Linked DNA regions of Homo sapiens. The protein of the gene in region 1 purifies or fractionates together with the protein of each later gene. This does not show direct contact. Each region holds a gene or a part of one and is shown on either strand. Other genes may lie near its edges.

Region 1 (7,231 bases):
TGTGATGGTGAGTGTGAGACCTGCCTCAGCCAGGCTGCAAAGGGATTGGCATGTTGGCTGAGAGGCTTGTGCCCTCTGGAAGATGAACCTCCCTCCTCAAAGTCCGCAGCCGAAGATTCAGCTTCCTGGGGAGCCCTTTCTGATAAGAAAGTTCTCTTCTGAACACACCCGACACCTGGGCTTCCTCCCCATTTGTGTGATTTCTTTAGAGAGAGTGGCAGTTTACAACCATAGGAAATTAGGAAACCATGGGCCATGTGTTTGCATGTGCTTCTTTTATGCTAAAATGATACTGTTCTACCACTGCTTTCCTCTTTTGCTTGGAGTAGCTGAGCAGCTGGGAAGTAATGAGCCATACTTCGTATCAAGTTCCAGTATTAGCTTTGCCTGACAAACAACTTGGGGGCCAACCCTTGAGGATGATAGCTTTGTAAAAACATGTGAGAAACCACAACTTATTTCACTCTTACGTGGATGTGAAACCCTTCAATGAGAGGCAAGGTCAAGTTCATCCGTGCCCAACTAGACATGCTGCAGAGCTCATCTCAGCTCACAGAGAAGGACCTGAGCATGGATTTGGAAGCTCCATGCTCTTCAAGATCTGGACTCCTATCCGGCACTCCAGCACCCAAATTTGTGGCTTCTATTCCCAAGGTTACTTCGTGGTCCTGGTTAGCAGCTGGTGTTCCAACCATCATGCTTACCCCCAGGTGACAGGGAGGAAGAAGGGAGATAATGCTAACCGGGGAGTTCCAATTTCAGATGAGCCAGCTTTCTCCTTCCCAGAAGTCCCACACTACTCTTCCATTTTATTGACCATGATTTAGTCACCTGGCTACACCTAGTTAAACGAGAGTCTGGGAATTAGGATTCTTTTTAAAAAAAATTTTAGCCCTTAGTCTGGATGGTTCTTGCCCCAAAGAGAATCAAGATTCTGCTGGAAGGGAAGAGGGAGATAGCAAATCTTGTAGTTTCTCCTGTATCTCTTACTGTGTACCCGCATTAAATCTTTACTGACAGTAACAGGATAAATTCCATTCTAAACATTCTTTACATGCAGAAGGCTCTTCGGGGAAGGAACCCAAATGCCTGTTTGTTTTTGTTTTTGTTTTTGTTTGAGACAGGGTCTTGCTCTGTTGCCCAGGCTGGAGTGCAGTGGCATGATCTCGGCTCACTGCTACCTCCGCTTCTCAGGTTGCAGCGATTCTCCTGCCTCAGCCTCCCAAGTATCTGAGATTACAGATGTGTACCACCATGCCCAGATAATTTTTGTATTTTTAATAGAGATGGGGTTTCTCCATGTTGGCCAGGGTGGTCTTGAACTTGTGACCTCAGGTGATCTGCCCACCTGGACCTCCCAAAGCGCTGGGATTACAGATGTGAGCCACTGCACCCGGCCCCAAATGCCTGTTTTTATTTGAGATAAAATGGTGAAAGGTTAAGGTAGTAAAAGCAGTTGATGAGAGGTCCTGTCATTCAGAAACGCCTCTGGTTCAGAAAGCAGTGCTGCAGGGCAGAAAGAGCACTGGCATCCAGGATCTGCCTCTGACCTGCTGTGACACCTCCAGCAAGTTGCTTGCCTTTCTAAGCTCTAGTTTCTGCACAGATCCATTGAAGCTAATAGCCAGGACCTCATGGGATTGTTTACAGGGTTAAGTAAAGCCACGTCTGTAAACTGCCAGGTGCACAGTGAGTAAGGCCCCTCCCTGAAGGAAGCTTGGCTACAGCAGTATTTGGTCATAAACCTTGAAGACCCAACACAAGCTGTCTCATTTTGGGTAAAATTCAGCTTCTAGACTAGGAGAAAGGGGCCCTTGGTTCCTCACCTTCATCTTGTTCTGGATCAAATTCCAAAACTTGCAGGCAGAAGAAGCCGTTATATTAAGAAAAATGGTGAAATATACTTAATATAAAATTTACCATCTTAACAAATTTTAAGTGTACAATTTAGTGGTATTAAGTACATTTATGTGATTGTGCTACTATCACCACCATCCATCCATAGAACTCTTTTATTTTGCAAAACTGAAACTATTCCCATTAAAGAGTATTTCACCATTCCTCTCTCCTTCCAGCTCCTGGTAACCACCCTCCTGCTTGTCTCTATGAATTTGACTACTCTAAATACCTTGTATAAGTGGTGTCATGCAGTAGTTGTCCTTTTGGTCCTGGCTTAGTTCACTTAGCTTAATATCCTCGGGGTTCATCCATGTAGCATGTGTCAGAAATTCTTTCCATTTTAAGGCAGAGTATTATTCCGTTGTTTGTGTATATTACATTTTATTTATCCATTCATCTGTCCATTGAAGGAGACTTTCAATGATTGGAGGTTTGGAAGGAGCAGTCATGGGCTGAGAAAACACAGTGGTGGCCAGAGGCTCTGAGATGAGAAAACTGGAGACTAGTTCAGCAAGTACCGAGGCTCGTTTTGGCTGGTTACCCAGGGTTCCAGGTGAATCCTTGGGTGATCTCGAGTTAGATATGGGGGACCACCAGGTGCAAGGTTAAGAATCATGAGCTTGATTCTAAAGGTAGTGTGAAGTCATGCAAGGTTGTTGAGCAGTGAAGTGGACAGAAAAACAGCTGTGGTTTATTTAGCTAATTTTCACTTTTTTTCCAGAAATATTTGGGATACAGGGTTCACTGTAAGAAGAGAAATTTGGAAATTTTTGTAGTTGCCTGGAGTTCAAAGGAAGCTAGTATTTTCACTATAAGCTAGTTGAGAAGAAAGGAAGAGAGATTTCTCTGGATTCGCAGTGTTGGCTGGATATGTGAGAGAAAAAACCTTGAAGCCAACAGGTGGCACTGTAGGGCTGAACAGGCCACAGTGAGTCTTCTGTTGGGCAGGCAGCCTTCTCCCCCAAGCTGTGCCCAGTTTTATCCAGGTCAGGTCTCTTCATTCTAGAAAAAGATGTGGATTCTCCTACCTAATGGAGATTTCATGTCCCTCCTGGCTTTTTCTCATTCTACCCTTTTGCAGCCTCTCTTCTTTCCTGGTGATTTTTCTATGGATTGAGTGGATTCCAGGTCTTTAAGTGTGAAATGTGAAAAGCCCATTGCATAAGAGAGCCCGACCTCATTGAGCTGGTTCTCAGCCCAATCAGTGCCTTTGCAAACTGCCCAGGTATGTAGAGATGCTGCCATTTCCTTCTTGTCATGGGCAGGCAGCCAGATGGCTTCATCAGCCAGAAAATGAGGGAATCCGTTTGGGATGCTTGAGGCATGATGCTTAGAGAAGATGCCCACCCAGGCCCTTCTGAGATCCCTCTAGGAAGGGCCAGGATCAGGGTGAGGTGAGGGAGGCACTGCTTTGAGGGCAGAATTTTTTTTTTTTTTTTGAGACCTCTGTCGCCTAGGTTTGGAGTGCAGTGGCGTGATCTCGTCTCACTGCAACCTCCGCCTCCCGGGTTCAAGCCATTCTCCTGCCTCAGCCTCCCAAGTAGCTGGGACTACAGGCACGTCCCACAATGCCCGGCTAGTTTCTGTATTGTTAGTAGAGATGGGGTTTCACCATGTTGGCCAGGCTGGTCTCGAACTCCTGACCTCAAGTGATCTGCCCGCCTTGGTCTTCCAAAGTGCTGGGGATTACAGGCATGAGCCACTGCGCCCGGCCTTGAGTGCAGAATTTAAGGGGGCACTGGAAAACTCAATAATCATGAAAAAAAATGACATTTAAATGCAATATTAAAAAAATTAATACAGGTAAAATATATGGTGAACAAAGTTGGAACTTTGGCCTCCTCCCAAAGGAAGGGAGGAAGGCTTGGGAAGGGCAAGAAGTTGCCCTAGGCTCGGGGAGAACAGAAGCACCAAGGTGGTTTCTCCTTATGCACCTGCTGGTGGGGCAGAACTGAGTCTTCCCCAAGCCCATCTGTAGAGCTCACCACTTAAAACCATGGAGCCTCCTAATCTCAGCCCCATCTCATGTGCTGCCAGGTGGACATCTGTGTGCATCGGTTCCCAGCGATGAATAGTCCCAGCTCTGAGGGGGGAAGCCTAAGTCTGAGCCATGGCAGCATGATAGGGCTATTGAGAGTTCAGGCTGCATTCACATATACCCTCTTGTTGTTCCCCATAAGCCAGCCAAGTACCCCAAACCATCTCTCATATTGTATTATTCAGCAGTGGGTAATCTGTATTTATGAGGGCTACCGGATAGCTGTGGCTCTGCTGGGCTTGGCAGGGCTGGACCAGGCCCCGAGTCCTCTCATTCAAGCCCAGGGAAGGGAGAGGCACTCTGGTGCTTGCTGTTTTCATGGCAGAGGCAATACCTCTGTGGGAACAGGGCCAAACCACACAAGTGCCCTTAGTGCTTTTGCCTGTATAAGGCTCACATCTGCTCACGTTGGCTAAAGTCAGGATGGGGAAGTCTACTCCATCGAGAGCAGGGTTTCTCAGCCTTGGTGCTATTGACATTTTGGGCCATATGAGTCCTTGTTGTGGGGCTGCCCTGTGTATTTTGGGATGTTCAGCAGCATCCCTGACCTCTGCCCACTAGACGCCAGTGGCATCCCCTTTCACTGTGACAATCGAAACTGCTCTCTAGGAGACAAAACTGCCCCCAGTAGGGAACCACTGACTGGAGGTAAGCATGGCAAGAGAGGGGCGGGGTAATTGTGGTCAAAATACAGTCAACCATGTATTCTAAATGCCCCTTGTTGCCAGGCACAGTGGCTACTGGAGAAGCTCTGGTGGGAGGATCGCTGGAGGGCAGGACTTTGAGACACAACATAGCGAGATGCTATCTCTAATCAGTAAAAATAAACAATTAATAAATGTCCATTGTGTGAACATGTGTCTCAATTTTTGGTTCGGAAGGATTGGTCAGCATACAGGGACTCACTTTCTGAAAGAACAAGAGAGCTAAGGCCCTTGTCTGTCAGCCCCGCGATTGCCCGACGTGACTGCAGTCATGGGGTGACCCTCTCTTCATCCCCTCACCTGGCACAGGAAGCTGTTTCTTTGCTCTTGTCCAGTGGTTCTTGGATCAGTGGCGCCTGGGAACTTGTTGGAAATGCAGTCTTAGGCCCCATCCTGGGCCTTCTGGCTCAGAAACTCTGGGGGTGGGGCCCAGCAATCTGTGTGTTAACAAGGCCTCCAGGTGATTTTTACCATTATTAATAGCTACCATGGTACAGGGCTTTGTTACCTAAGATGTGATGAGTGGGGCCTTAGGCAGCTCAGCATCTAGCTACTAGGGGCTTATTTTACACGCACCAGGCTGACTACAGAAAGGCTCCTTCCTCTGCTCTGTAGGAGATGATTGTTATCTGCCTGCTGTAGCATGCTGTATTCTGATGGTTTTGTTCTATCTGTGATGTGGATTTCTTTTCTAAGAACTTTATTTATTTTTAAATTTCCAACATTTAAGTTCAGGGGTACATGTGTAGGATGCACAGGTTTGTTACATAGGTAATGACGTGCCATGGTGGTTTGCTGCACAGATCATCCCATCACCTAGATATTAAGCCCAGCATCCATCAGCCATTCTTCCAGATGTTCTCCTTCCCCCACTCCCCACCATCTGACAGGCCCTAGTGTGTCTTGTCCCTCCACCATGTGTCCATCTGTTCTCATCATTCAGCTCCCACTTACAAGTGAGAATATGTGGTATTTGGTTTTGTGTTCCTGCATTAGTTTGCTGAGGGTAATGGCTTCCAGTTCCATCCATGTCCCTGCAAAGGACAAGATCTCGTTCCTTTTTATGGCTGCATAGTATTCCCTGGTGTATACGTACCACATTTTCTTTATCCAGTCTATCATTGATGGGAATTTAGGTTGATTCCATGTCTTTGCTATCATGAATAGTGAGTGCTGTGATGAACGTAAGAGTGCATGTATTTTCATGATAGAATGATTTATATTCCTTTGGGTATACATCCAGTAATGGGATTGCTGGGCTGAATGGTATTTGTGCTTCTAGGTCTTTGAGGACTCACCACACTGTCTTCCACAATGTTTGAACTAATTTACATCCCAACAGTGTGAAAGCGTTCTTTTTTCTCCACAACCTTGCCAGCATCTGTTGTTTTTTTACTTTTTAATAATAGCCATTCAGACTGGCGTGAGTCGGTATCTCATTGTGGTTTTGATTTGTATTTCTCTAATGATCAGTGATGTCGAGCTTTTTTTCATGTTTGTTGGCCGCATGTATGTCTTTTGAAAACTGTCTGTTCATGTTCTTTGCCCACTTTTTAATGGGGTTATTTTTTTCTTTTATTGAGATGGAGTCTCGCTCTGTTGCCCAGGCTGGAGTGCAGTGGCACAATCTCAGCCCATTGCAACCTCCGCCTCCTGGGTTCAAGTGATTCTCTTGCCTCAGCCTCCTGAGTAGCTGGAACTATAGGTGCATGCCACCACACCTGGCTAATTTTTGTAATTTTAGTAGAGAGGGGGTTTGGCTATGTTGGCCAGGCTATTCTCAAATTCCTGACCTCAGGTGATCCACCCACCTCGGCCTCCCAAAGTGTTGGGATTACAGAAGTGAGCTACTGTGCCCGGCTTATTTTTTTCTTGTAAATTTGTTTTAAGTTCCTTGCAGATGCTGGATATTAGACCTTTGTCAGATGGATAGATTGCAAAAATTTTCTCGCATTCTGTGGGTTGTCTCTTCATTTTGATGATAGTTTCTTTTGCTGTGCAGAAGCTCTTTAGTTTAATTAGATCCCATTTGTCAATTTTTGCTTTTGTTACAATTGCTTTTCGGGTTTTCATCATGAAATCTTTGCCCATGCCCATGTCCTGAATGGTATTGCCTAGATTTTCTTGTAGTGTTTTTATAGTTTTGGGCTTTACATTTAAGTCTTTAATCCATCTTGAGCTGATTTTTATATATGGTGTAAAGAAGGGATCCAGTTTCAATTTTCTGCATATGGCTAGCCAGGTCTCCCAGCACCATTTATTAAATAGGGAATCCTTTCTTCATTGCTTGTTTTTGTCAGGTTTGTCAAAGATCAGATGGTTGTGGGTGTGTGGTCTCGTTTCTGGGTTCTCTGTTCTCTGTTCTTCTACCAGTACCATGTCGTTTTGATTACTGTAGCCTTGTAATATAGTTTGAATTTGGGTGGCATGATGCTTCCAGCTTTATTGTTTTTGCTTAGGATTGTCTTGGCTTTTTGGGCTTTTCTTTGGCCAGGTGTTAATCTCCTATTTTATAGAAAAATAAACTGGGGACCAGAGAGGCTAAGTTACTTGCCCAGGATCACAGAGCAGAGTCACTCCAGTTCCCATG
Region 2 (7,274 bases), on another chromosome or scaffold:
CAGAGGAATCCCTATATATGACAGCCATAGTCTTACAAAATGTATTTCTTTAATAATAAGTCTTGAAAGTCAAAATTACTCCTTGATTTGTGGGCTGCAGAATGTTGTGCCAGCAAGTATGAAAACAACATTAATTTCCCTGTAAATCTCCATCAGAGCCCTTCAGTGACCAGATACATTATCAATTAACAGTAATATTTTGAAAGGAATCTTTTTTTTTTTTTTTTTTTTTTTTTTTTTCTGAGACAGAGTCTCGCTCTGTCACCCAGGCTGGAGTGCAGTGGTGCGATCTCTTGGCTCACTGCAACTTCTGCCTCCTGGGTTTGCGCCATTCTCCTGCCTCAGCCTCATTCTCCTGCCTCAGCCTCCTGAGTAGCTGCAACTTCAGGTGCCCGCTACCATGCCCGGCTACTTTTTTTATTTTTTTTTTAGTAGCGACAGGGTTTCACTGTGTTAGCCAAGATGGTCTTCATCTCTTGACCTCATGATCCGTCCGCCTCGGGCTCCCAAAGTGCTGGGATTACAGGTGTGAGCCACCGCGCCTGGCCCTGAAAGGAAACTTTTCTTCTGAGCAGTAGGTGGCCACGGTAGGCTTATTCAGTAAACCACTCTCTAAACAGATGTGCTGTCATTCAGGCTTTGTTGCTCCATTTAGAGAGCACAGGCAGGGTAGACTTACCATAATTCTTAAGGGCCCTAGGATTTTCAAAATTGTGAGTATTGGCTTCAACTTCAAGTCACCAGTTGCATTAGTCCCTAATAAGTGAGTCTGCCTGTCTTTTGAGGTTTTGAAGCCAGGCATTGATTTGTCACCTCTTGATATGGATGTCATGGGCGGCATCTTCTTCCAATAGGTGGCTGTTTTTTTCTACATTCAAAGTCTGCTGTTTAGTTTAGCTGCCTTCATCAATTCTCTTAGCAAGATCTTCTGGGTAACTTGCTGCAGCGTCTCCATCGCCACTTGCTCCTTCAACTTGCACTTTTATGTCATGAAGGAGGCTTTTTTCCTTAAACCTCATGAACCAACCTCTGCTAGATGCCGACTTTTCTTCTGCAGTTTCCTCACTTCTCTCGGTCTTCATACAACTGAAGAGAGTTAGGACTTTGCTCTGGATAAAGCTTTGGCTTAAGGAAATATTATGCCTGGTTTAATCTTCCACCCAGACCACTAAAACCTTCTCCATATCAGCAATAAAGCTGTTTCACTTTCTTACCATTCATGTGTTCACTGGAGTAGTACTTTTAATTTCCTTCAAGAACTTTTCCTTTGCCTTTATAACTTGGCTAACTCTTTGGTGCAAGGGGCTTTGCTTTTGGCCTGTCTTGTCTTTTGACATGCCTTTCTTACTAAGCTTAATAATTTCCAGCTTCTGATTTAAAATGTGTGAGAGATGTGTGCGTCTTCCTTTCACTTGAACACTTAGGGGCCACTGTAGGGTTATTAATTGGCCTAATTTCAATATTGCTGTATCTCAGGGAATAGGGAGGCCTGAGGAGAGGGAGAGAGATAAGAATAGCCAGTGGATGGAGCAGTGAGAACACACACAACGTGTATTGATTATGTTTGCCAACTTATATGGGTGCAGTTTGTGGCAATCCAAAACAATTACAATAGTAACATCAAAGATTACTGATCACAGATCACCATAACAGATATAATAATGAAAAAGTGTGAAATATTGCAAGAATTACAAAATGTGATAGACATACAAAGTGAACACGTTGTTGGAAAAGTGGCACCTATATACTTGCTTGCCACAAGGTTGTCATAAACCTTCAATTTGTAAAAAATGTACTATCTGTGAAGTACAGTAAAGCAAAGTGCAATAAAACAAGGCACGTTTGTATACTTACCTGAAGGATATTAGGGAACTAACTAATTATTCTGAAGATTAGGAAATAATGGTGAAAATCGCACATTTATCCTATCTTTCCATATAAGCTGTATAGATATTTAATTAGATGAAGTTCTTTATTATAAAATAATTTGTTAGTAAATGTAGAGTGAATATCAAATTAGAATATCACTATTTGCAACTCATAACAAAATGATGGATGCAGGCAATAATCATGAATGGCTGCTAAAACTATTAGCTGAAAAGTTGATGGAAAAATTTATAATATATTTATCATAAATTTAATATTTAAATAATATAATTATATTTATCATAATTATATATCAATGTCATATATTTATCATAAACATTTACCATATTTTTATAATATTTATATTATTATTTATCATACATGTTATCAGGTTGACAACATCTGAACCCAATGATCAAGTATAACATTAAAAAAAGAGAGACAACCAGAAGTTGTAAGCCTCTTGAAGTAATTCAATACAAAGTAAACTGTAACACCTATAAAGTCTTTTGTGAAAAAAAATCAAACTTTAATCTGAGTAATTCTATAAAGTTAACTACCAGTTTGCAAGAAATACAGGGGGAAAGGACAGCACAGGAATAAAATCTGCAAAATTCAGAATGTGGAAAATTCTACAGAACAAATGATCATTACTCTTTAGTAAATAAACTGCCAGAAAAAAAGGGGAAGAGGAAGGAATCCATAGATTTTTAAAAATCAAATGTGATGTGGAGACTTTGTTCAGATGAATCAACTGAAAAACATATAAAACTTCTGAGGCAAGTGAGTAAATTTGATATTGAATGTTTCTTTTATGTTATTACAGAATTATTGTTAAATTTGTAATACTAGGGATATTGAAGTTGTGTTGTTTTTCAAAGCCCTTATATTTTAGATATAATACATATTTCCAAAAAGTTTACTCTTAAATATTTGTCATCAAAACAATATGGGGTCTGGAATTTACTTCAAAACAATCCTAACAACTGGGAGAACTATATATTAATAGTTGTTGACTCTGGATCATTAATACACGAGGGTTCACTATACTAATCTAACATATGTTTGAATGCAAAGATTGGGTACTCCAAGTGAAGTAACTAATCCTTTCTGACCACCTGTCTGGTCACTGAAATCATTAAAGGCTGAAAACAACTAGTCACATAAAGAAGCATAGGGCGGCCGGGTGCAGTGGCTCGCGCCTGTAATCCCAGCACTTTGGGAGGCCAAGGCGGATGGATCACCTGAGGTCAGGAGTTCCAGACCAGCCTGGCCAACATGGCAAAAACCTGTCTCTACTAAAAATACAAAAATTAGCTGGGCCTGGTGGCGCACACCTGTAATCCCAGCTACTCGGGAGACTGAGGCAGGAGAATCACTTGAAACCCCGGGAGGCGGAGGTTGCAGTGAGCCAAGATCGCACTACTGCACTCCAGCCTGGGTGACAGAGTGAGAACCCATCTAAAAAAAAGAAAAAAAAAAAAAAAACAGCAGCACAGGGCGTTAGAAGCCCTCATGATCAATGTCAACTGGTGCATACAGCTTCACAGTGAGAAGGAGCTTCCAAGGGTAAAATCTGGGTGGGAAACAGTGATCAATTGTAAGAGACCCCTGTAGCTGTTGCTGATTACCAAGGAGAGAGTTTAGTAAAGGAAAAAGCCCTGGTCTGGAAGTTAGAAGACCGCCAACACCTAGTTTTGTAATCTCGGACTCATAACTTCTGTAGGTTTTGGAGCATAAAAGCACAGGAACTGAAATAAAAAATAACGACAATAATTTTGTTGTGGGTGCCCACTCTGCACTTCACAACATCCTAAGAGCTTTGGATACATTATCCTATTTACACCTCACAACCCAAGGAGGTGTTTTGCGCGCTTGATACATACTTTTTAAAGGACTACTGAATAAGTTAGGCGTCAGTATATGATACCAGTTTTCCCATGGGGTGAATGATTAAGGTGTTACAGAGGCCGAATATCTCGTTTAAGAGTGACTTGGTCTAGTCAATAGTCCAGGATTATTTAACAGGAAAGAATGCTTTGAGCACTCAATTGCATTGGACTGTATTGGAGAGAGGGCTAGGAGTTGGGTGGGAGACGCTGGAAAATTTAAAATCGTTTCCTTAGGCCTACAGTTTTCCGATCGCCTGCACCACGTTCTATCTACACATCACAGTCTCAGGAGAAGGATTTTCAGCCCTTCATTCAGCTCCAATCCTTTAGACCGCGATCTCTCCCGCGCCGGCTCCCAAACACTTCCACCCCCAATCTCCACCCCTTCTCCCTTGCGCACAACCTGTGGGCTTCAAACTACATCTCCCATAAAACCGCGGGGGCCCCCCTCCCGCCCCCCCCCCACCCCCGGATCTCCACCGGAAGTCGGGAAGACTGCATCCGGCTCCAGGAAAAGCGAGTGGGATATCCCAATCTTTGGACTGCATCCTGGTTGCCTCTACTGTGGTCACCTTTGGGTTAGTAGAAGCAGTGGGGAGTTAGTCGTCTCATTGCCTCCTCTGGGGGCGGTGACCACTTCCCTGGGCTCTTTGGTTCCCGCGCTGCCCTGCGTGGCCCTGCTGAGTTGTGTGGCGGAGCCTCGTAGTGGTTTGGTGGGCGCAGGCGCGGGAGCCACGGACGCATTTGCAGGGGCTCCCGCGACAGGGCGGAGGTGCGGCGGTACTGAGGTCGTAGAGTTTCCTGCCCAAGCTGAGATGGGGAAAAGGAAGCGCTACTTAGGGTGTGATTTCACCTCGAAAGAAGGAATCTCACAGTAGTGGCAAGAAAGTAAAATATCTTAAGGCATTTTACCATTTTCAGAGACCGTGCACGGGTGGCACTTAATTGGTCTTGAGTGCCCAGGGAGTGGATGAAATTCGTTAATTGATGGTCAGTGATTTCAGTGACAGAGCGATATTTAAGGTCCTGTCCTGTCCCATTCGGTCTGTGTGAGCATGCGGAAGTCATGGGCCCCGGGTTACATGTCAGTAAAAGTGGATGTTGGTTTGTTAAAAATTTATGTCCCTTTACATCTAATATTCTTTTAAATGATTTCTCGGAATAGTCCTTGAGCTTCTTGGAAAACAAGGGCAGCACTTTATTCTGCCTTCAAATCTTTACCTTCTATAACCTGTCAATGAGAATTGAAAAAGTAAATCAAACAGTAGAATTGGGTGTTAGACTTTATGTGCTTCTCTGGAATGAATAATGGTACTATTTCTAGATGGCTTTTCTGCTGAGAAAGCTAGAGGGAAAAGTGTACACTTTCCACTTCCCATCTCCACAGAATAGCATATGCATAAGCATTGCCCTGGAGGTAGTGAATGACGCTGTATTTTTGAAGGACAATTTTGCAGTTACCTGGCGCGGCCTGTGAGAATGTGAGGGAGTGACGGTGACCCCAGAACATGAGACAGTGAAATATTATTCAAACTAAACCTAGCTGAAAAAACTATAATATGGGTTTTTGGAAAATAAACTTAAGAGAAAGACAATTTGGAAGGGAGATCAGTACAGGAGCTGTACAGCAGTGCTTCAAAATAAAGTCCTGAAAATTTGTAGCTTTTGTTATGCATAGTATTTTTAACGTATGTAGAAATTTCAATATGAAAGGAACAGCGAAGTAAATTCTAGAATAAATCAAAAATTATTCTGTCATGTAGATATTACTTCTGGTAATTTAATTTCTAAACAGATTTCCACTGTTAGGTTTCATCCAAGTGTTTCCATGACTGTGAGCAGTTTTAACCTATTTATAAGTAGCAGAAAGACACAAATAGGAAAGGTGAACAGCTCCAAAATGAGACAATTAATCTTTACTCCTTGTTTTCCCTAAATTTTGTTCATACTATTCCTGCTATGCAATTCATCAGCCAGATCGCCCTTTCAGAACCCAGGAGACAGCAGCTATCAAAAACTATGGGCTATAACCTTTCTGTCTTTTTAGCTTAAAAATCTTATTGCTTAGAATGATAGAAATGTTGTTAGAATCCCAAATCTTTTCTTAATAGCATTTCATAGAAAGAAGAATTATACCTTAAAAAAAAATACTTTGAGAAGTTCACAGACAGTTGAATCATGAACCATTTTCACCATCCCCCGCCGCCAAAAAAAAAAAAAGACAAAAAAAGCTCAGTGTGTGCTCTATCATCTGCAGTCCATGATTAGGCAATATTTAAGAGGTATGGAACAATTATTTCAGGGTTTACCCCACCGAAACAAAAAGGTGACAAAGCAGATAAAGTTAATGAGTTTTAAAAGCTGCTCTGATTCAAGGACAACAAAGTGACCAACAGAACTGTCCAATAATAGAACCAAAAATATATGATCATCTGATTTGTGACAATATTTGTCTCAGTGTAGTAGGACAAAGATGGTAATTTCAAGAATAATACGGAGTAATATGGATTATGCATTGGGTAAAAAAGTATCTTGACCCCTACCTCATGCCATGAACAAAAATAGATCCTAGATGGATTACAGAATTAATTGTGCAAGGTCAAACAATAAACTGTTTTCCTGTGAAACTTATAAAGTCTCTGCCTTTACTTCCATCTGTTTTAATGCTCTCCCCCTCATGTCCCCACCCATCGTGAAGTCCCCTCTGGTCTACCCTAAATACCTCCTCCTTATGTAATATGTTACCTGGTTCCCCCTCCCAAGGATATGGCCCCCTCGTCTGTACTGTCAGAGCTCTTTATTCATTATTTTGTGTAACTCCCATGGGCATATAAATTGCGTTGCATTTTATAATTCTAAACTGATAACATTTTGAAATTGAAATGTATGCTGTTTAAGGATTGCCTGTTGAATAGTATGTTGCCTTGGAAACCATTGCTATTATTCTATTGCTATTTATCAATATTGTTCATTGATAAAAAAGCAGTTGCAAATAAGCTTTTTCCCCTGATTTTCCTTCTTTTAAGGAAGAAATGTCTTCTGTAAAAAGAAGTCTGAAGCAAGAAATAGTTACTCAGTTTCACTGTTCAGCTGCTGAAGGAGATATTGCCAAGTTAACAGGAATACTCAGTCATTCTCCATCTCTTCTCAATGAAACTTCTGAAAATGGCTGGACTGCTTTAATGTATGCGGCAAGGAATGGGCACCCAGAGATAGTCCAATTTCTGCTTGAGAAAGGGTAAACATTTTAGGCTGTACCACCTGAAAGGGTTTGTGGTTTAATTTCTTTGTTACATATTTACTTTAAAATTTTGCTTGTTTCCATATTTATATTGTTGAACTACTAAATAACTCATTGGCTAATTTATGTAAAAATGTAGCACAATTTTTCTAACTTAAAACTTTGTAACCTTTTTCATTGAGAAATTATTTCTTTATAGCAAAGCAAATTTATGAGGAGTCTAATTATAAATTTTCCTCCCAAATAGAAAATGCAGATCTCACTATGACTACCAA

Evidence for each region. Proteins that work in one complex are often made in the same cells at the same time.
Region 2: the proteins of PDLIM1 (region 1) and NUDT12 purify together in Homo sapiens (affinity purification with mass spectrometry; 3 studies listed by BioGRID and IntAct, with this or other methods). This does not show direct contact.

Annotation. Positions count from the first base shown.
Region 1 is NC_000010.11:95,238,786-95,246,016, reverse strand, and holds part of PDLIM1 (PDZ and LIM domain protein 1), read left to right. Parts: intron 1-7,231. UniProt on the Homo sapiens protein: Cytoskeletal protein that may act as an adapter that brings other proteins (like kinases) to the cytoskeleton. Involved in assembly, disassembly and directioning of stress fibers in fibroblasts.
Region 2 is NC_000005.10:103,559,765-103,567,038, reverse strand, and holds the start of NUDT12 (NAD-capped RNA hydrolase NUDT12), read left to right. Parts: upstream 1-4,249; 5' UTR 4,250-4,336; intron 4,337-6,784; 5' UTR 6,785-6,790; coding exon 6,791-6,996; intron 6,997-7,274. UniProt on the Homo sapiens protein: mRNA decapping enzyme that specifically removes the nicotinamide adenine dinucleotide (NAD) cap from a subset of mRNAs by hydrolyzing the diphosphate linkage to produce nicotinamide mononucleotide (NMN) and 5' monophosphate mRNA.